4 separate regions of the Homo sapiens genome follow, and regions 1, 3 and 4 are each linked to region 2. Evidence: fine-mapped expression QTL. A gene starts in region 2. Each other region holds a variant in brackets. All regions are shown on one strand. Distances are between the middles of the regions.

Region 1 (5,673 bases), 260 kb after region 2:
AAGGACAAAGGTGATGGTGACAGTTTTTGGGATACTCAAAGCATTTTGCTTGGTGAGTTTCTGGAAGGCCAACATCTGCTTATTATGAGAGTGTTTTGGGAAATTTAGCCAACATTTTAGCAGAAAAACACCCCAGAAAATTTAACCTTTTCCACCATGACTATGTTCCTGCTCATTCCTCTCATCAAATAAAGGCAATTTTGCAAGAGTTTTGATGGGAAATCATTAGACATCCAACTTACAGTCCTGATTTGGCTCCTTCTGATTTCTTTTTGTTTCCAAATCTTAAAGAATATTTACATGGCACCCATTTTTCTTCAGCTAATAATGTAAAGAAGACTGCATTGGCATGGTTAAATTTCCAGGACCCTCAGTTCTTTAGGGATGAACTAAATAACTGGTATCATCACTTATAAAAGTGTCTAAGTTTACTTGATTGAACTTATGTTTATAATGTTTACATTTTTTATTTTTGTCTTTTAATTCCATTTTCTATGAACTTTTTGAAGCTCCCTTATACCATCAACTTGAGAATGAATGAACAGTTTGTGGCATATCCATATTATGAATGACTACTCAACAATAAAGGGGAAAAACTACTTATACTCGCATTGATGATTCTATAAATTATTATGGTTTGTGAAAGAAGTCACATACAAAAGACTACATATTCTATTATTCCACTATATGAAATTCTAGAAAAAGCCACACTATAGTGTCAGAAACCCAATCACTGTTTTCCAGAGGGTGGAGAGAAAAAATTAACTGCAAAGGGAGTATACAGTAACTTTTCATGGTGATGGGAAGTTCCATGCCATGAATGTGATTGTGGTTACACTCTATGCCCAATTGTCCAAATTCAGTGAAGTATGCACTTAAGCTTGATGAATTTTATTTATGTAAATTATACTATAATAAAACTCACAAAAATGTTTAACAGAGAGAAAACAAACAGTGGGAGAAAAAATCCTTTCAGTACCACTACATTTCTCATAGTAAAGTTGGCTAAGTCATATCAGTCATATGTGTGTGGGCAAGAGGAGGGTTGTCCCAAGGCAATGGGTGTTGAACAGAGGAAATAGGGGACTTTCTGAAATGTCCATAGAGGAGCGACAAAAGGAGTAACCTGGTTCAGGGAGTAGAGGAAGGGTAACTAAGGAACAGCTGAGGGTGTGGGGCCATTTCGAACAAAACTCTTTCATTATTTACATGGTCCTTCATGATCTGGGCCTTGCCTGTGTCTCCAACTCACTTGCCTACCCTCTCTCTCAGTCTGTTTTTACTCTGACTTCTTGTTTAGCTCTTTCTTAAGTTTCTTTGTGCACTCCTCATAGCTCTATGCTGGGCCCTGCTTTTTTTTTTTTTTTTTTTTTCCACTTACACCCTTTGTTCTCTTTAGGTCAATTATCCACTTCCATGCTTTCAATCATTATACCAATAATGACAAAACTAGGAAAAGCCTCAGAGATTATTTCTTTTCTACATAATGTCAAAGTGTATTCTTAGGCAATGAGACTAGCTACTTGAATTGGGTTTGTGAATGGAGACAGGAAAAGAAAGCCTTTATGAAGTTAGGAAAAAGTAGGCAAACTTGAGAGAGAGGAGCAACATTCGGTACTTCAAACTTATTATTCTTCTAGACTTAGTAACACTTCTTTGAAGCACGTAACACACTTGAAATCATTTCTTTAATATCTGTCTTCTGGGCTTACCTGTAATATTTTTGTGGGTCTGTCTTCTTTACATCTGAAATCTCCAAAACCAAGCAAGATGCTTGGCACTTAGTAGTTATTTGATAAATACTTGTTGCCTAACTAACTACTCTACTAATTACATCCAAGCCAAGCAATGTGCAATAAATTATTTCATGTCCCTAGTCTTTTACTGTTTTCTTTCCTTGGAATGCTCAACCCTCCTGATTTCTTCTTACCTACTCTCCAACCCAACTCCAAAAGGAAAATTCCTACTTAAATGTCTCCTTTAGAAAACTTCCTGACTTACCTAAAGCAGAGATTTGTGCCAACACCATCCTTCTGTATCCTTCCCTTCTAGCTAGTTCTTCCTTGAAATGTTTCCATGTCTGTTTTTTCTTCTTAGTTAATTCTGATTCTTCCACACTTGCCATAATAGTTGGCACACAGCAGAACTTTGATCAATATTTGTTAAATGAATGATTTATTTTTCCACCAGTCATGTGATATATGCAGAGTAGCATTATACCTAGGCAATTATTAGGGTTTGTGGGTAGAATGAGCCCCAAATCCCTAATGTGGAAACTGCTTAAAACAGAAAGTAAATCAACACCTACTAAGATGGATGTCAAATCTCAAATCCTTGTAGAAAGCTGTGTTGGAACTTCTAACCACTGCTAAAATTAGATTCAAATCAATAGTGAAGCAACCTAATTTTTATCAAGAAATTTTCCATAAGGAAGATAATAAAGTCATGTCTACAATTCTTTTTGAATTAGAGGCTAGATATATTAGCTTGGAAATAACTAGATGCAAAGTCATGAAGAGATTATGCAAAGTAACTTTTCATATGGCCTAATTTAATCTTGTGTGAAGCAAGTGCCTTTGTTAATTCAACTGATTTTTTTAAGGATTATAGTTTTTTTGTTACTTACTTCTCAGAATTAGAATTAAAATGTAGTTACCGGGAATCATCTAACCATGACCAAAAAAAAAAAAAAGAATTTTATAAGCATGCAGGACAAATAATATGTTGCTGGCAT[T/G]GTTTACAAGTGTGTTAGATCCATAAATAATGGTTTACTAAAAGTTTAAGGACTTGAAGAGAAATATACAGATGACTCTACTTCTGCAACTTTTACCAACATTCTAGAGAAATGAATGTGTAGCTCAAAATTGAGTCCAAGGTCAATGTATTTAGTCTTTGGCAATGACACTGAGATTTTAAAGCAGAGGGTTTCACTGATGAAAATACAGTTCCAATTTTTTTAAAGGAGCATCTGTAATTTAAAAACACAAACCTCACCTCTTCCTTCCCAGTTATATGTAAGAAGCCCTTTTACAAATAACTGAAAATCATTTTATGTTGAAAAAAGAAGAGCACCCCACCCCCATGCTAACACCACCACCAGCATGCCCATAAGCACAGTTGCCAGCAGGGGCCTCCCCACCCCTCTAAGCAGTCTTACTTCTGCTGCTGCTGTAAACACCTACATGGAGGAAGGCATCCCAGCACTCTCTACCATCCTACTGTAGCCAATGAGTGTGCACCCCTCCATGTTGACACTGCCACTGCTGCTGCTGCTGGCATGTGCAAACAAGGACAGAGCCCACTGCCACCACATTTTTGTTGGCACTACCCATCAGAGTTTAGGGACCAGTAGAGTGGCAGCATCTCAACTCCCCCAGCACAGTGGGTTCCTAGCCTTGAGGAGCCAGAGAACAAAGTCAGGACCCGAAACAAGTCCCTAAGAGTTACAGCCTGCAGTCCAGGAGCTGGGAGCTGAGACTTGGTACCCACTAAAATTTTCCAGAAATGAAGCCAGTGGACTGAATCCATCTTATACCACAATCAAACCCTCAAGCTCATCAAACAGAATAAAAGAAAAAAAAATCCACCCAAAGGACAGCAACTTTAACGACTGAAGAAACACTAGCCCACAAAGACGAGAAAGAACCAGTGCAAGAACTCTGACAACTCAAAAAGCCAAAGTGTCTTCTTTCTCCAAACAACCGCACTCACTACCTCTCCAGCAAGGGTTCTGAACTGAACTGAGATAGCTGAAATGACAGAAATAGAATTTGGAATATGAATAAGAATGAAGGTCATTGAGATGCAGGAGTATGTTGAATCCCAATCCAAAGAAGCTAAGGATCACAATAAAATGATACAAGAGCTGACAGATAAATAACCAGTATAGAAAAGAAAGTAATCAACCTAACAAAGCTGAAAAACATTCTACAATTATTTAGGAATGCAATTGTAAGCATTAATGGGAGAATACGCCAAGCAAAAGAAAGAATTTCAGAGCGTGAAGACTGGCTTTCTGAAATAAGACAGACAAGAATAGAGAAAAAGAAGGAAAATGAATAAACAAAATTTCCAAGAAATATGGGATTATGTGAGGATATCAAATTTGTGACTCACTGGTGTTCTTGAAAGAGATGGGGAGAATGAAACCAACTTGGAAAATGTACTTCAGGATACCATGCATGAGAACCTCCCTAACCTAGCTAGCAAGGCCAACATTCAAATTCAGGAAATGCAGAGAACCCCAGCAAGATACTTCACAAGAAGATCATCCCTAAGACACATAATCATGAAATTCTCCAAGGTCCAAAGGAAAGAAAAAATGTTAAAGGCAGCTAGAGAGAAAGGTCAGGACACCTACAAAGGGAAGCTCATCAGACTAATAGCAGACCTCTTAGCAGAAAACCTACAAGCCAGAAGCAATTAGGGGTCAATATTCAACATTCTTTTTATTTTTATTTTATTTTTTTAAAGATTTCCATGGGTTATTGGGCAACAGGCAGTGTTTGGTTACATGAGTAAGTTCTTTAGTGGTGATTTGTGAGATTTTGGTGCACCCGTCACCTGAGCAGTATACATGTCACCCAATTTGTAGTCTTTTATCCCTCAGTCCCTTCCCATGCTTTCCCCCGAGTCCCCAAAGTCCATTGTGTCATTCTTATGCCTTTGCATCCTGATAGCTTAGCTCCCACTTATGAGTAAGAAGATACGATATTTGGTTTTCTATTCCTGAGGTACTTTACTTACCATAATAGTTTCCAATCTCATCCAGGTCATTAATTCACTCCTTTTTATGGCTGAGTAGTATTTTATTTTATATATATATATATATATATATATATATATATATATATATATATATATATATATATCTATCTATCTCACAGTTTCTTTATCCACTTATTGACTGATGGGCATTTGGGTTGGTTCCACATTTTTGTGATTGCAAATTATGCTGCTATAAACATGTGTGTGCAAGTATCTTTTTCATATAATGACTTCTTTTCCTCTGGGCGGATACCCAGTAATGGGATTGCTGGATCAAATGGTAGTTCTACTTTTAGCTCTTTAAGGAATCTTCACACTGTTTTCCATAGTGGTTGTACTAGTTTACATTCCCACCAGCAGTGTAGAAGTGTTCCCTGTGGACTGCATCCACATCAACATCTATTATTTCTTTATTTTTTTATTATGGCCATTCTTGCAGGAATAAGGTGGTATCGCATTGTGGTTTTGACTTGCATTTCCCTGATCATTAGTGATGCTGAGCATTTTTTCATATGTTTTTTGGCCATTAATATATCTTCTTTCAAGAAATGTCTATTCATGTCCTTAGTCCACTTTTTAATGGGATTGTTTGCTTTTTTTCTTGCTAATTTGTTTGAACTTGTTATAGATTCTGGATATATTAGTCCTTTGTTGGATGTATAGATTGTGAAGATTTTCTCCCACTCTGTGGGTTGTGTGTTTTCTCTGCTAACTGTTCCTTTTGCCGTGCAAAGCTCTTTAGTTTAATTAAGTCACAGCTATTTATCTTTGTATTTATTGCTTTTGTTTTTGGGTTCCTGGTCATGAAAACTTGCCTAAGCCAATGTCTAGAAGGGTTTTTCCAATGTTATCTTCTTGAATTTTTATAGTTTCAGGTCTTAGATTTAAGTTCTTGATCCATCTTGA
Region 2 (5,673 bases):
GAACTCCAGGGCAGGAATGAAACCAGGCCTAAGAAAAAATTCTTAAAAAAGAGACTGGAATTGCATCTGGACTATTTTTCCATCTCACCTCTGATCCTCTTGGAAAGTATCATTTTCTCTTTCTCTCTCTTTCTCCCCACCCCATCTCTACACTTTTTCTATTTCTCTAATAGAAAAATGGCCAATCTATATCTCCCAAGGTTTTACATAAATATATATATGAGTGTATGTCACAGCCCTGTCACCTAAGAGACTAAATTTTTAAAATTTGGTGTAAATATAGATTCTCATGTGAAAAATTCCAACGGGTTCAACTGGAATTAGGTACCTATTCTTAGTACAATCAACTTGGTAGAGTCACCTTATTCAAAACAGTTGCTAGGGGCTCAGCCTTGACTCTGAGAGAGAACTGGGCTACTATGAGCTGAACAAATAGCTCTATGCTCTTCATTCATTCTCCCAATCATTCCAGCTGAAAACTTCATAAGTCAGTTTAGGCTTATCCTTCTCTTTCATATACTATTAATTTATAGTTCTGTCACAAAGAATTAATTCATTCTTCTTTCAAAATCCAGTATTATCTATTCCTTCTCCATTCTCACGGGCTTTGTTATTTGCCAAAATGATAGTTCAAAAACAGACATTACACTGTAGTTAAATTTGCATTTCTTAAACTACTGGTGAGGATAAACTATTTTTTTTTTCATCCTATAGACTACTAACATTTCTGCTTTCTTGGTCTGTATTGTGGACTTGTGTTCCCCAAAATTCGTATGTTGGAGTGCTCTTCAATGTGACTGTGTTTGGAACAGGGCTTTTAAGAAGGTAATTAAGGTTAAATGGAAGTCACAAAGGTGAGGCTCTATGAAGAGACATCGGGGTAATGTGCACAGAGGCAAGGCTATGTGAGGATGCTGCAAGAAAGTAGCCGTCTGCAAGCCAACCAGAAAGGCCTTGGGGGAAACCAAAACTGCTGACACCTTAATCTTGGACTTCTAGGCCCCAGAACTGTGAGAAAATAAATTTGTGCTGTTTAAGCTCCAAAGTCTTTGAAGCCGAAAGACTTTTGTTATGGCAATAGCAATCTAATACAGTTTGCCTCAGTGTTCATTATTTTTCTTTTGACACGTTTGTTTCTTCTAGCAACAGTTCTCTAAGCATTAAGACTCTTAGCCCTTTATACATAATAAACATTAACAAACATTTTTCCCCATTTATTTGCCCCCCCACCTTTGTTTTTATTTTGCTTTATATAACTGATTTTTTTTAGTATAGTCCAATTTTTCAAACTTTTCCTTCATGGTTGCTGCACATGAAATTATGATTAAGGCCAGCCTTCCCATCCCCCAGAATATTTATATTTACATATAGGTTCTTCCAATTATTTTTCTTTTTGGTCTCATCTGAATTATTTTCAATGTATGATATAAGATACAAATTCTTTAAAAATATAGCTTACAATGGGCCAGGCACCGTGGCTCATGCCTGTAATCCCAGCACTTCGGGAGGCCGAGGTGGACGGATCACGAGGTCAGGAGATCGAGACCATCCTGGCTAACACGGTGAAACCCCATCTCTACTAAAAATACAAAAAAATTAGCCGGGCGTGGTGGCGGGCACATGTAGTCCCAGCTACTCGGGAGCTGAGGCAGGAGAATGGCGTGAACCCGGGAGGCGGAGCTTGCAGTGAGCCCAGATCGCACCACTGCACTCCAGCCAGAATGACAGAGCGAGACTCCGCCTCAAAAAAAAAAAAATATATATATATATAAAATATACTATAGCTATATAGCTATAGTATATTATATATATAGCTTACAATTATCCCTGTACCATGTAATCATTTTCCACTGATATGAAATCTTTTATCGTATACTAAATACTTACACTTTAACTCCTGTTGCTTTTTGTTTATGACATTCACTCATTCAATAATTTATTTTGGAGGCTATATTCTTCCGCATTTATCGTAAGGGAAAAAGAATTTTTCACCAAGTTTAAGAAACATTATTTTGGGTGTCTTAAATAATAAAAGACTATGACGGAAAGTTCTTAACGTTAGTTTTTAAATTAAAATTGTTTTCAGCTAACAATAAACAAGATGGATATACACAAAATTATGTTAATCTAGTGATGAGCCTAATTAAAGGAGGGGGGTACCATTGATTTAGTTGAATTATACTAATCGAAAAGAACAGAAAAAACGATGGTGAAGAAACTACAAGAGGACTGTCAGCTTTTCAGGGTCCTTTTAAAAGAACAGTTCTTGTCCTTCTAGAACTAGTTATTCAAAATTCTTTTTTCCCCCCTCGATTCTCTTGATAAAATTCAGATAGTAAAGACGTATAAGTCAGTGGGGCTATTTTTACAAAGATCATTGCTTAGTGCTAGGAAGAGAATCCAGAAGACGGGAAGTTGAGGGTTGTGTTCTAAAAGTTCTCTGAAGAAAAGGGTACAGAGAAGCTCCAAGTTGTGCAGGCCCAGCAAACTCCATGTTGGACGTGCTTTGCTACCACCTAAATCTCTTCTGTCGGAATTCAAGGCCCGAACCATTCCAGGGATTTTAGAAAAAAATGGGGAGACACAAAAATGATGCCAAAGCCATAGCTATCATTACAAACATCCATTATGTTCACTCTGCTTTCCATATGCAACGCACTCTACATACAATGGGCGCCTTATAAGCACATAGCAAATGTGAAAAATATTATCAACATTGCTTTGATAATATTAATATATTATATATATTAGAATATATTATATATTAGAATATATTATATATATTAGAATATATTATATATTACTAATATAAAAAATATTATCAACCCTGCTTTAGAGAAGATGATACTGAGATATGAAGAATCATAAACTGTCCAAGATCACAGGGGCAAAAAGTTCACCTCAACTGAAACCTCTCACGAACCACAAAAATGTGGCCGAGGGAGCCTCAAAAAGCAGTACCCCAAGCGGGGACGGTAAAGTCAGAAAAGACAAGGCTGGGGGTAATCACAGAGAAATCTAAAAACCCGCTCGGCCTCGCTACTCTTCTCCTTCCTCTGAGGTGCAGAGGCGCGGTGGGACGACAAGGAGTTGCGAGAAAGGGCAGAGCTCACTGAGGAGGCAACAGAGAAAGTCCGCTAACAATTTTTGAAGGCCGTAAGTTAAACATGTTAAAAACTGTAGCTACTCACTCAGCCGACATCTAGTAAAAAAGATGCGGCAAGATCAACAAGGCATATAGCTTGCGCCCGCCAGAAGTTCCGCGGCCTCCACACCCATCCCGGCATACTTTGCGCCGTGCACAGGCAAGCCCTGGTGCGCATTGGCCCCTTCGGCCGCCGTCGGCCGGTAGTTACTATGGAAACCCAGCTGCCATCGCTATGTCTCTGCAAAAGACCCCTCCGACCCGAGTGTTCGTGGAACTGGTTCCCTGGGCTGACCGGAGCCGGGAGAACAACCTGGCCTCAGGGAGAGAGACGCTACCGGGCTTACGCCACCCCCTCTCCTCAACACAAGCCCAAACTGCTACCCGCGAGGTGCAAGTAAGCGGCACCTCAGAAGTGTCTGCGGGCCCTGACCGGGCGCAGGTGGTGGTGCGAGTGAGCAGCACCAAGGAGGCGGCAGCCGAGGCCAAAAAGAGCGTTTGTCGCCGTCTAGATTACATCACGCAGAGCCTCCAGCAGCAGGGCGTGCAGGTGAGATCTCCGCGGGGGAGGAAATAAGAGCCGGAAGACACAAAAGGGTTGGCAGATGGTCGGGCCCCACAGGCCCCCCTAGCGGGAAGGGAGATGTGGAGGGTCTGGAGCGTTTAGGACGCGTTTGTTGCAAAGGTACTCCGGGACGCCAGGACCTGGCAGAGTGAATATTTGACCCATTCTTCTCCTAGACGAAGGTAATTATTGGCCTCAGGCAAATTAAAAATAAAAGAATGCAAATTGGGTAGGTTTTTATCTGGGGATATTTGCTTCAGTGATTTTGTTTTTAAATTTAAAGTGATGAAATGTTAAAACTTGAAATGTTAGTTGTAAATACTTGCCCACGTGGAGTGCTGGACACTAAATATTTTGTTTTGTTTTGTTTTTATTCCGCACCATGGAATTGGCAAGTGAAGAGCACGACCTGCTTCCTTCCGATCATGTAAAACTTTGCATGGAATGGTTCTTGAGTATGTTCCGCAAACAGTAACGTTGGGAAGTGGGGAAGAAGTTGCGTCCATTTTCATTTTATAATGATTTTCATTTTATAGTGATTCCCCCAAAATTTCTTCGGCCTTCTTAGGTTTAACTTAAAAGAAAAAATCAAGCCAGTATTGTGGATACCACATATACGAAATACTTCTACTTACTTAACGGAGATGTCCATGAGACAAATCACTAAACAAATCTTACCTTAAGCCTACTCCTAAGGCAAGAAAAAAAATGAAGCCATCATTTAATCCACACAATAGCACTGTTAGGCATGTTTTAATATCCCTGTTTTCCAAATTTAAAGAGGTTAAACAATGCTCTGAACTTTAGGTAGAGCAATATTTGAACTCATGTATTCCTGAAACCAGAATGTAAGTTGCTTCCAATTCTGCCGATAATTAGAATGAAAGAAAATTAGAAATCATAGGGATCAACGATTTCAGTTTTCTCATTTTATAGAGTAGGACCCCAAAGGCCAGAGATGTAACTTATCCAGGATGACATTGAGTTGGTAAAAGTGCAGGCATTGTTACTTCCAGTCTATTGCAAGAAATTCCATACCCCGAAAAAGCAAGTCCTTATTTTTAACAAGAAAAGATATTTGAATTGCATTTATAATACAAACATACAAGTTATTACAAAGTCATTTGGACAAGATTTCTTCAAATGATTTTACAATTTAGAAAAATACAGATAATTATAAATAATGTGAGTAAAGTGGGTTTAATATGTAGAAAAATAGTTTTAAAAAACTGCTACTAGTGCTGTAGTCGTTTGAATAATGTTAACAAGTTTTTAAGTTATTTACATAAAATAAAAAGAGCTCACAGGTCTCTAATATATAAAACAACATAAGCTGGGCATGGTGGCTCATGCCTGTAATGCCAACACTTTGGGAGGCCAAGGCAGGTGGATCACTTGAGGCCAGGAGTTCGAGACCAGCCTGGCCAACATGGCAAAACCCAATCTCTAGTAAAAATACAAAAATTAGGTGGGCATGGTGGCACAGTCCTGTAATCCCAGCTACTAGGGTGACTGAGGCAGGAAAATCTCTTGAATCCGGGAGGCGAAGGTTTCAGTGAGCCGAGATGGTGCCACTGCACTCCAGCTTGGGTGACAGAGACTCTGTCTCAAATAAGTAGTAAGTAAATAAATTAACTAAGTCCAACTTAGAGTAATCAAGATTCAGTGTTCAAGGCAAGACATAAGAAAGACAGTAACCTCCCAATTATCTCTGCTAATGGATGAAAGCAGTCAGGTAGATAATTTGTTCAGGAGATAATACAAAATATCATTTATATTTTCAGAATGAATTATGGGTCTTCACAAAGTCTGTATTCATTTTAAACTTTAGAATTCTGAGCTGTAAGATTTATAAACATCACTTCCCTGCTTAAAGGGCTCCTCATAATCCAAACTCCTTTGCTTAAAAGATGGAGCCTGAGCCGGGCGTGGTGGCTCACGCCTGTAATCCCATCACTTTGGG
Region 3 (5,673 bases), 78 kb before region 2:
CAAGAGCAAACACATTCAAAAGCTAGCAGAAGGCAAGAAATAACTAAGATCAGAGCAGAACTGAAGGAAATAGAGACACAAAAAACTCTTCAAAAAATCAATGAATCCAGGAGCTGGTATTTTGAAAAGATCAACAAAATTGATAGACCGCTAGCAAGACTACTAAAGAAGAAAAGAGAGAAGAATCAAATAGATGCAATAAAAAATGACAAAGGGGATATCACCACTGATCTCACAGAAATACAAACTACCATCAGAGAATACTGTAAACACCTCTACACAAATAAACTAGAAAATCTAGAACAACTGGATAAATTCCTCGACACATACACTCTCCAAAGACTAAACCAGGAAGAAGTTGAATCTCTGAATAGACCAATAACAGGCTCTGAAATTGAGGCAACAATTAATAGCTTACCAATCAAAAAAAGTCCAAGAACAGATAGATTGTATTTCTACATACTAGCAACAAATAATTAGAAAATGATATTTTATTATATACATATATATATATATTTTTTTTACTTTAAGTTCTGGGATACACATGCTGAGCATGCACGTTTGTTACATAGGTATACATGTTCCATGGTGATTTGCTGCACCTATTAACCCATCATCTAGGTTTCAAGCCCTGCGTGCATTAGGTGTTTGTCCTAATGCTCTCCCTCCCCTTTCCCCCCAGCCCCCTGACAGGCCCTGGTGTGTGATATTCCCCTCCCTGTGTCCATGTGTTCTCATTGTTCAACTCCCATTGATGAGTGAGAGCATGTGGTCTTTGGTTTTCTGTTCCTGTGTTAATTTGCAGAGGATGATGGTTTCCAGCTTCATCCATGTCCCTGCAAAGGACACGAACTCATTCTTTTTTATGGCTGCATAGTACTCCATTATGTATATATGACACATTTTCTTTATCCAGTCTAACATTGATAGGTATTTGGGTTGGTTCCAAGTCTTTGCTATTGTAAACAATGCTGCAATAAACATACATGTGCATGTGTCTTTATAGTAGAATGGTTTATAATCCTTTGGGTATATACCCAGTAATGGGGTTTCTGGATCAAATGGTATTTTTGCTCCTGAGTCCTTGAGGAATTGCCACACTGTCTTCCACAATGGTTGAACCAATTTACACTCCCACCAACATTGTAAAAGCGTTCCTAAGAAAATGATATTTTAAAATGCTATTTACAGTAGCCTAAAAACAATAATAAATGTAATGAAAACACTGAAAACTAAAAACCATTTCTCAAGAACATTTAAAGAAGATCTAAATAAATGAAGACAATTTAAATATATATGCTCTGGTCATGTATTTGAAGATTCAACATTATTAAACTATCAATAATTCCCCCAAATTAATCTGTATATCCAATTCAATCCTAACCAAAATCCCAAAAAAATCCATTTTAACTGTTGAACTCAGTTTACAATTTATATACAAATTCAAAGAATTTAGAATAGACAAAACAATTTTGAAAAACAACAAAGTTGTAGGATTTACACTCCCTGATTTCAAGATTTACTATAAAGCTATAGCGGTTTTTACAATGTGATCTTTGGCCAAGAATAGAGAAGTAAATCAATGGAACAAGATGAGGTCCAGCCATAAGCCCACCTATACATGGTCAATTGGTTTTCAACAAAAATACTAAGGCAATTTAAGAAAGAAAGATAATGTTAATAAATGGTCTGGAACAACTGAATCTCCATAAGAAAAAAAGAAGAATCTTGACCACTACCTCTTACCATGCTAAAAAAAAAAAGGGGGAGGCGGGTGAATATCTTCATGAGTGTGGAGTAAAGATTTGTTTACACTAGGCCAAAATATGTGTGTGTGTGTATATATATATATAAACTTTAATAAATTTTACTTCATCAAAATTAAAAACTATAACTATTCAAAAACACCATTATGAAAATGAAAAGGTGATCCACAGATTGGGAGGTAAATCTTTCCAAAACATGTATCTGACTAGTATTAAAGATATACAAAGAGTTCTGTATCAATCAGGGCTTGATTAATGAAACAGAACCACTAAGAGTCCCATACATATGTGTATGTATATATATATATATATATATATATATATATATATATATATATATATATGTATATAAACATATTTCATTATATGGATTTGATCTCATACATTTATGGGAGACTGTCTCTGTGAAACTGTTGTCTGTACATCTGATACTAGAGTCTGAGATCTGCTAATAAAGCAGTCAGGAAGAGAAATTAAATGCAAT[G/A]TGAGAGAAGCAAGAAGAAACTCACCTATAAGGATGGGCTGAAATCTCCAAGGACAGACTGTACCAATCTCTCACCAACTTCAATCAAGCTTCCAACTTCAATGATTAGGGAGATGTATTAGTTTGCTAGAGTTGCCAGAGCAACACGATAAAAACTGGATAGCTTAAAATAGAAATTTATTGTCTTGGTTCTAGAGGCTAGAAATCTCAGATGAAGACATTAGCAGGGTTGGTTCCTCCTGAGAGCTGTGAGGGAGAACCTCTTCCATTCTTCTTGTTTAGCTTCTGGTGGTTTGCTGGCAATCTTTGGCATTCCTTGGTATCTGCTACATCACCCTAATCTCTTCCTTCATCTTCACATGGCATTCTCTGTGAATGTGTGTGTCTCTGTGTTCACATTGTCCCTTCTCAAAAGGACACCACTGTATTTGGATTAGGGCCCACTCTAATGACTCATTTTAACTTGATTACCTTTGTCTCTACAAAGACTCTATCTCTAAATAAGGTTACATTCCGGGGTACTGAAGGCTAGTATCCCAACATATATTTTTGGGGAGACACAAATTCAACTGACTACAGGAGATAAGTATGTACCTGGCCCAGGATTCAGCACAATGTAAAGAGGAAGTCTGGCTGGAGGAGCTATGAACTCAGATGCCACCTCATGCTCACAGGGTGACCAGCAAATTAGCAACAGTGTGTGTGAGCTGCAACAGTGCCACCTGCCTTGCTCCAGCTTTCCATGAATAAAAAGAAGATAGTTGCTGCTTTATGTCTGCATTCTAAATCCTGCACAAATTTTCAGGCTCAAAACAACCAGAGAGGGACATCCCAGAAAAAAGTAGTTCCAGTTTAGTTAAGGTGACACAATAGCAACTTCACCACAAACTCATACAACACAATGCAGACAAAATGCAATTTTCAAATGAATAAAAGGTTTAGATATACCTTTCACAATATGAGATACATAAATGGACAAGAAACACATTTAAAGGTGTTTATTCCCATTAGTCTTCAGGAAAGTGCAAATTAAAATCATAATGACATACTACTGAATATCCCCCAAATGGCTAACGTTAAAACAAAAACCGGGGCATATCAAATGTTGATTGCAATGAGTTTTTAAGTTATCTTGAAGCACATGAAAATACTTTACCCAGCCAATAGTATATTCTATCATTATGGTAATTCATAATGATGATGTACCTTTATATTTGATTCCTTTACCAACTAAAGTGGGCATAGCCACTTTCAAGGCATAACAATGGCTCCCCAAAATGTTCACATTCTAATCTCAGAACCTATGAATATGTTAGGTTACATGGTAAAGGGAAACTAAGGTTGCAGAGGAAATTGAAGTTGTTAATCAGCTGACCTTAAAATAGAGAGATTATCTTGGATTATCCAATGGGTCCAGTGTAATCACAAGGATCATTCAAAAAAGGGGGAAGCAGAAGAGGGAGTGTCAGAGAAAAACATATAACAACAAAAGTATCATCAAAGCTACATTGCTAGCTTTGAAGATGGAGGAATGAGACCCCAAATCAGTGAATGTGAGCAGGCTCTAGAAGCTGGAAAAGACAAGGAAACAGATTTTCTCCTAGTACAACCAGAAAGTAACACAGCCTGGTGGGCACCTTGATTTTAGCCCCAAGCAACTTGTGTTGGATTTCTGACCTACAAAACCATAAGATAATAAATTCGTGTTTTAAAGTGTGTAGTAATTTGTTACATCAGCCATTGGAAGTTAACACAAGTAGATACTATTAAGATTGTTTTACAGATAAAATAAAGCAGGGAAGTCCAGCATCTGGGCTATCACCAGTTGCTCACAGGGCCCAGACAGTCTACACCTTATGTTTCTGGGCTCTCACTCCATGATTCCTTCCACAGTGCCACCCAGCTTTCTCTGGGTGTGAGCAGGATCATGTCAGCAAATGACTCAAAGAAATTATGAGCAGTGAGACTCAGACATGGAACAGGTCTTAGCTTTCTGATAAGAAAGTCACGTACATCTCCACTCTCAAAACTTCATGGATTTGAGCAGGGCACAGTGGCTCACACCTGTAATCCCAGCACTTTGGAAGGCCAAGTTAGGAGGATCACTTGAGGCCAGGAGTTGGAGACCAGCCTGGGAAACATAATTAGACCTAATCTCTGAGAAAAAAAAAATTAATTAGCTGGGGAAAGCTGGAATCATTCCCCTTGAAAACAAGCACAAGACAAGGATGACTCCTCTCACCACTCCTATTCAATATAGAATTGGAAGTCCTAGCCAGCACAACCAGGCAAGAGAGAGAGAGAAAAAGGGCATCTGAATAGGAAGAGAGAAAGTCAAACTATTCCTATTTGCAGATAACATAATCCTATTAACTAGAAAATCCCATAGTTTCAGCCCAAAAGCTTCTTGCTGATAAACAATTTCAGCAAAGTCTCAGGATATCAAAATCAGTGTACAAAAATCACTAGCATTTCTACACACAAACAACAGTCAAGCCAAGAGCCAAATCAGGAATGAACTCCCATTCACAATTGCCACAAAAAGAAGAAAATACCTAGGAATACAACTAGCTATGGAGGTGAAAGATCTCTATGAGGAGAACTATAAACCACTACTCAAAAAAATCAAACATGGCATAAACAATTGGAAAAATATTCCATGCTCATGGATAGGAAGAATCAATATTGTTAAAATAGCCATACCGCCCCAAGCAATTTATAAATTGAATGCTATTCCTATTAAACTACCAACGACATTCTTCACAGAACCAGAGAAAACGATCTTAAAATTCATATGAAACCAAAAAAGAGCCCAAATAGCCAAGGCATTCCTCAACAAAAAGGACAAAGCTGGAGGCATCACACTATCTGACTTCAAACTACTGTACCGGGCTACAGTCACAAAAGCAGCACGATACTGGTACAAAAACAGACACATAGACAAATGGAACAGAATAGAGAACCCAGAAATAAGACCATACACCAACTATTATCTGATCTTTGACAAATCTTACAAAAACAAGCAATGGGGAAAGGATTCCCTACTCAATAAATGGTGTTGGGAAAACTGGCTAGCCATAGGCAGAGGTTGAAACTGGTCCCCTTCCTAACACCTATATGAAAATTAACTCAAGATGAATTAAAGACTTAAATGTAAAACCCAAAAGTATAAAAACTCTGGAAGATAACCTAGGCAATAACATTCAGGATATAGGCACAGAGAAAGATTTCATGTCAAAGATGCCAAAACAATTGCAACAAAAACAAAAATTGACACATGGGATTTAATGAAACTAAAGAGCTTCTGAACATCAAAAGAAACTATCCACAGAGTAAACAGACAGCCTACAAAATGGGAGAAAATTTTTGCAAACCATGCATCCAAGAAAAGTCTAATATACAGCATCTATGAGGAACTTAAAC
Region 4 (5,673 bases), 150 kb after region 2:
ATGAAGAATAACAGCAATTGTTAAGAAGTAAAACATAACTTCAAAATCTCTGAAAATTAGATAATAAAATGTAAGCAAAATTACAGTATATACTGAATTAATATTTTACTCCAAAACCATTCACATTTATCCTAAATATATAACACATCTAACTGGAATTTAAGAAAGAAGTTTATGAATATATCTGACTAGAATGAATTTTTCAATATTTATAGAAGTAAAGCTTTGCTCAAAAAATAATTTCACTAAGTGAATATATAACCATACCATGTTAAAATTATCAGTCACCTTCACTAGAAAATATTTCTCTCGCAATTCTGCTGAAATTTTTCTGTTGTCTCATTTCCCATGTGTCAAAATCTTATCAAACTTTTAAGGCCCAACTCCCTCAGTAACTTTTCTTTACAAACTTTGCAATTAAATGAGGCTGCTCTCTTCAGAACTCCCCTAAGACTTTGTTTTGTAGCATATTCATTCTACCTTGCATTACAGTTATTTGTATATGCAGTGTACTCAAGAGTAACACTCTTCCACAGTATTGAAAACAATACCTGTATATAATAAAATATTTAAGTACTTTTGCTAAATGATCTACCCACTAACCCCTTAAAAAAATCAAATTGTCCTTGAAAAAGGAGTAAAAATTCAGAGTATTCTGGATGCATGTATGATGCCTATATTTGTATGACTACTACAAGGAATACTGAATCCATGGCAGTGGCACTGAACATCTAGAAGTTAGAAAATGAACATGTTTGGATATTAGTATGGCAAAGACAGACTCACTTCATTAGTTTGCTATCCCTTATCTCAGGTAATACTCCTATCCACAATTATAAAATGAGCGGAAAAAGTAAAACTGAAAATAAAGGTAGGAGGAACAGGTATTAGACACTATTTGGATCTACTCATGTTTCATTTAATTTTCTTATCAATTTACTACAAATAACCAGATTTTTTTTATAACTTGTTTAAAAATACCCTAACATCCATTCAAAATGCTGCTGCATAAACACAAATCTGAATTGGAATCTTAGCACTGCTATACAATCACTTTTTAAAGTGCAAATAAGAACAATATGTAGCGAATTAACTGATAAAGATGTACAAATATGAATCAAATTTATTTTACTTAACTATAGAATACCTTCAAAATCCATGAAAACATAAACCAGATTTAAAATACCATTCTTACAATGAAACAACTATTTAAACATTCATTCTTTAACAGGGTCGATTTTGAAACTATTTATTCTCTCCTACTAGAACATTATAGTCTTCTTAAAGAAAAACAGTCATGTGATTATATAAACTAAACTCTTGCATAAATGAAATATTTCTAAGTTAGTTTATAATAATTCTCAGTTACTTATTAGCTCTGGCATATGTATAAGAACATGATTGATAATACAACAGTAAATATTTTCCTAAATATTACACACTCCACTATAAGGCTTCTAAATGAACAACTTTAAGTCGAAAATTAGAATGAGGGAAACTTACCAGCACTAAAAGAAGAACAGATCATTTGAACTCCAGGCCGAGGGCGCTCTGTAAATTTTGCAGGTCTTGGGCTGTAATACAAAAAATAAAGAATTAAAAATATCCTAAAGGAACCAGTAGCAGCAGAAATAATCTGTTTCAAAAAATAATCCCAGAAGGACAAAATTAAGAAGCAACAGATGGCTCCCTTCCTAAAAACAACTTAGAAATCATTATGTGTCATAAATCAGAAGATCTTGTAGAAATTCTAGATATAGATTTTGTAGGAGCTCCTTATTACACAACAATACGTACATGGAACAATTCCAAATTCACTGTCACACCAGACATGCAGTTACTAGTTACACTTACTTCTAATCAAATTTAACATGTTCTCAGTTTTTCATATAGAATAGCAACGTACAAACATATAAGGAACTAAGCTATTCGCAAACATGAATACATTAGCAAAATAGGTGCTGTCTGTGCCTTATGTATACCATCAATAACTGAACTTTTTCAGTATTTTACATTAATTAAGCTTTTCCCTTCTTTGACCTACTAATGTGATAAAACATGTCTTTTAAGACCCCAAAAAGTAGGGATATTACATTTAACCTAGTGAAAATCTGAAGATACTTTGACTCTTACGTCAACTACAATGAATGCTCATTCAAAATAGCAGTCTACAGAAAACAGGTTACACACAGCTGTATTTACATTAATTGCCTAACTGTATTACAGATTACATATTTTATATCAATACTACTGATATTAAATGTTTAATGTTACAGTCAACCAATTAGAGAAAATGAAGATTTTTATCATGACACCAGCTCTAATACATTTAACAATGTGTATGTAATGTTCCAATATACTGATTATATTTGAAGCCCTACTTACTGTACATTTTGGCATAGTTCTTCTACACTATTTGATGAAATGCAAAAATAATTAGAGCTTAAGCCTATATAACTTTCACAATATATAACAAATTTAGAGCAGTTTTAGTTTTGTGATCATTTACTGGAAAAAAGTATATACATAAAATATTTCTGAGCTATAGGTTGGTGCAAAAATAATTGCGGTTTTGCCTTTTTTT[T/A]AAAAAAAAGCTTTTTACCATTAAAATAATGGCAAAAACTGCAATTATTTTTGCACCAACCTAATATATATTCTGAGCAAAGAGAATTATCTTTTTTACTGATACAGAATGCAACAAAATGTTAAGAATTTAAAAAATAAGTTTGTAAATAGTTTTACATTAGTATTTACAGCAAATTCTATTAATATTCACAGGCTCTAATGTAACAGATGAGCAGAACAAATCTCATTTAGAGAGACAGATATTAGAACATTCTTAAAACCTAAACATTTATTCAGAGCAAAATTAACTGTAATTTAAGTAAATTAATCTGAATTATGAAGGCAACTAAATGCATTGCTTTCATTACTACCTTATGGATTATAGCTCTAGATTTTTTTTAATTTTTGGTACATCTGCTCACATAAGTTCCAAGCAACCATTTACCTGAAACTCATTACAAAAATATGCAAATAGTCCTATAAACTACCATTTTTAAAAGGTTTTTATTTTAGAAAGGAAATCAGTATATTGAAGGGATATCTGCACTCCCATGTTCGCTACAACACTGTTCACAATAGCGAAGATTTGTGGGTTTTTTGGTTTTTGAGACGGAGTCTCGTTCTGTGGCCCAGGCTAGAGTGCAATGGCACAATCTCAGCTCACTGCAACCTCTGCCTCCCAGGTTCAAGTGATTCTCCTGCCTCAACTTAAAATTTTATAAGTTAAATTACAGCCAAATGACAAAAGCAATGAAATTATATTTTAAAGTATTAAATTAGTGTGACAATGTAAGTAATTATGTGTTTGTTTACTTGTTTAGGTTTAAAGCAAATCAGTAAGGTTAGTTTAATGGAAAACACACACACATAGATGCTTTGGAACCTGATGGACCATCATTTGAGTCTTTGTCATTGCTAATGTTACTTATTTTTAGACACTTCTCTTTACACACTGGTGAATTATTTTGATTAACCAATAAATTTAATAAAGCACTACAAGTTACTTTTTTATTGGAGACAGAGGCTCACTCTGTCACCCAGGGTGAAATGCAGTGACGCTATCTCAGCTCACTGCAACCTCTGCCTCCCAGGTTCAAGTGATTCTCATGCCTCAGCCTCCCAAGTAGCTGGGATTACAGGTGTGCACCACCATGCCCGGCTAATTCTTATATTTTTAGTAGAGACAGGAGTTTTACCATGTTGGCCAGGCTGGTCTCAAACTCCTGACCTCAGGTCATCTGCCTGCCTTGGCCTCCCAAAGTGCTGGGATCACAGGCGTGAGCCAACACGCCCCGCCACAATAGTGAAGATTTGGAAGGAACCACAGTGTCCAACAACAGATGAACGGATAAAGAAAATGTGGTACTTATACACAATGGAGTACTATTCAGCCATAAAAAAAGAATGAAATCCTGTCATTTCTAACAACACAGATGGAACTGGAGGTTATTATGCTAAGTGAAATAAGGCAGGCACAGAAAGACAAACATCACATGTTCTCACTTATTTTGGGGATCTAAAAATCAAAACAGTTGAATTCATGAGATAGTAGAGGATGGCTATTATAGGCTGGGAAAGGTAGTGGGAGGAAGAGGAGGGAGGTGGGGATGGTTAATGAGTACAAAACTAATAGAAAGAATGAATAAGGCCTAGTATTTGATAGCACAACAGGGTAACTATAATCAATAGTAGTTATACATTTTTAAATAACTAAAGGAGTGTAATTGGATAATTTGTAATACAAAGGATAAATGCTTAAAGGGATGGAGACCCCCTTTAACACCATGTGATTATTATGCATTGCATGTCTGTATCAAAAGATCTCATGTACCCCATAAATATATACACCTACTACATACCCACAAAAACTAAAATTAAAAAATAAAAAGATTTTATATTTTTAAAGGGAAAAAACAAGTAGCTACCCATAATTTGTTTTTAGATGCATTATTTGAGGAAACATTTTTAAAAAGGGCCTTGGGCCGAGTTCAGTTTCTAGGTCTATCACTTATCAAGAGTGCGACCTTAGGCCAAGTTAACATTTCTGTACCTCAGTATCCTCATCTGTAAAACAGGGGTAAAACGGAACCTATTTCAGAGTTGCTGGGAGAATTAAATGAGTGTGATACATGTAAAGTGCTTAGTACAATGTCCAATATGCTCAATAAATATTAGTATTTTTATTAGGTTCAACAAGTTCTAGCCAATCCTTCAATGACTAACTGCCACTTAGTTTGGCACAGTGGTTAAAAGGGGTTTCTGACATTATACCTCTAGTAGTATTTAAATCCTGGCTCCAGTACCACCTGCTAACAATGTAACCTGCTGTGCCCCAGGTTTTTCCCTTATCTGCCCCAGAGATAATAACTGTACCTTTCTCAAAGGGTTGTTATAGGGATTGAGATAACAAATGTGAAATGCTTAGTACTAGCTTGGCAGACTAAGCGCCTAATAATCACAAATAAAAATTTGTAATCATCATATTATATGCATATTTTAGGATTCCTAGTCTCTTTACACCTAAGTCTAAATATACTTGGACAGCTTCCTCCTACCCAGAGACCTCTGGAGCTAGCTTATGGTTCACTTAGCCACTTAGACTACCCATTTAAGAAACAGCATCTTTGCTCGTGAGTTGGTAATACACACATACAAGTGAATTTATAAAGATATTTGAGTTCCCAAAGTTGAATTGATTCATTCAACTAATGCAGATGCAGGATTTCTAAAGTCATTTCCCCCAGCAGAATATACAAAAGCATTATAGCTAAATACAATTTTTGCCTTTGATTATTAATTAAATCCTATGTGACATAAACAGTATAAATCTATATCCTGCCAAATTTTTGGCAGTTTTCAACTATGTGTAAACACATAAAGAAAATAGGTGTTCCAAGGCTTATATCTAAAGAGCAATGGATTGTTCTTGTTTTTGTGTTTTTAATAAGACAGGATCTTGGCCCTGTCGCAGAGGCTACAGTACAGTGGTGAGATCACAGCTCACTTCAGCCTTTAACTCCTGGGCTCAAGCAAGCCTCTCACCTCAGACCCCTGAGTAGCTGGGACTATAAGTGTGTACCACCATGTCTGGCGTTTGTTGTTGTTGTT

Direction of the effects. Alleles are on the strand shown, and positions count from the first base shown. SD is a standard deviation of normalised expression in the study named. Not every link is listed here.
In carriers of allele A in region 4, the expression in naive CD8 T cells of the gene that starts at base 3,355 in region 2 tends to be higher than with T alone (large effect, 0.86 SD a copy in Schmiedel 2018).

What was found. PIP is the estimated chance that this variant, and not a neighbour inherited with it, causes the effect.
Region 1: its variant is the best candidate, but not a certain one, in a credible set for the expression of IRAK1BP1 in sun-exposed skin (GTEx, PIP 0.65).
Region 3: its variant is the best candidate, but not a certain one, in a credible set for the expression of IRAK1BP1 in whole blood (TOPMed, PIP 0.59).
Region 4: its variant is the best candidate, but not a certain one, in a credible set for the expression of IRAK1BP1 in naive CD8 T cells (Schmiedel 2018, PIP 0.58).

What each region holds. Positions count from the first base shown.
Region 1 is chr6:79,124,685-79,130,357 of GRCh38, forward strand. No RefSeq gene overlaps it. Among named protein-coding and RNA genes, the nearest start is that of PHIP, 49 kb to the left of the region's middle. The variant T/G (reference allele first, on the strand shown) is at 2,735.
Region 2 is chr6:78,864,197-78,869,869 of GRCh38, forward strand. It overlaps IRAK1BP1 (interleukin 1 receptor associated kinase 1 binding protein 1), which reads left to right and starts at 3,355. Exons shown (of 4, transcript NM_001010844.4): 1 at 3,355-3,695. The coding sequence starts at 3,381. It overlaps LOC107986613 (a long non-coding RNA gene), which reads right to left and starts at 3,294. Exons shown (of 2, transcript XR_001744210.2): 1 at 3,192-3,294. RefSeq lists enhancers at 3,250-3,359, 3,390-3,709, 3,542-4,142.
Region 3 is chr6:78,786,090-78,791,762 of GRCh38, forward strand. No RefSeq gene overlaps it. Among named protein-coding and RNA genes, the nearest start is that of IRAK1BP1, 79 kb to the right of the region's middle. The variant G/A (reference allele first, on the strand shown) is at 2,251.
Region 4 is chr6:79,017,586-79,023,258 of GRCh38, forward strand. It overlaps PHIP (PHIP subunit of CUL4-Ring ligase complex), which reads right to left. Exons shown (of 40, transcript NM_017934.7): 10 at 1,504-1,574. The region is part of intron 1 of LOC124901346 (a long non-coding RNA gene); the gene reads left to right. Among named protein-coding and RNA genes, the nearest start is that of PHIP, 58 kb to the right of the region's middle. The variant T/A (reference allele first, on the strand shown) is at 2,585.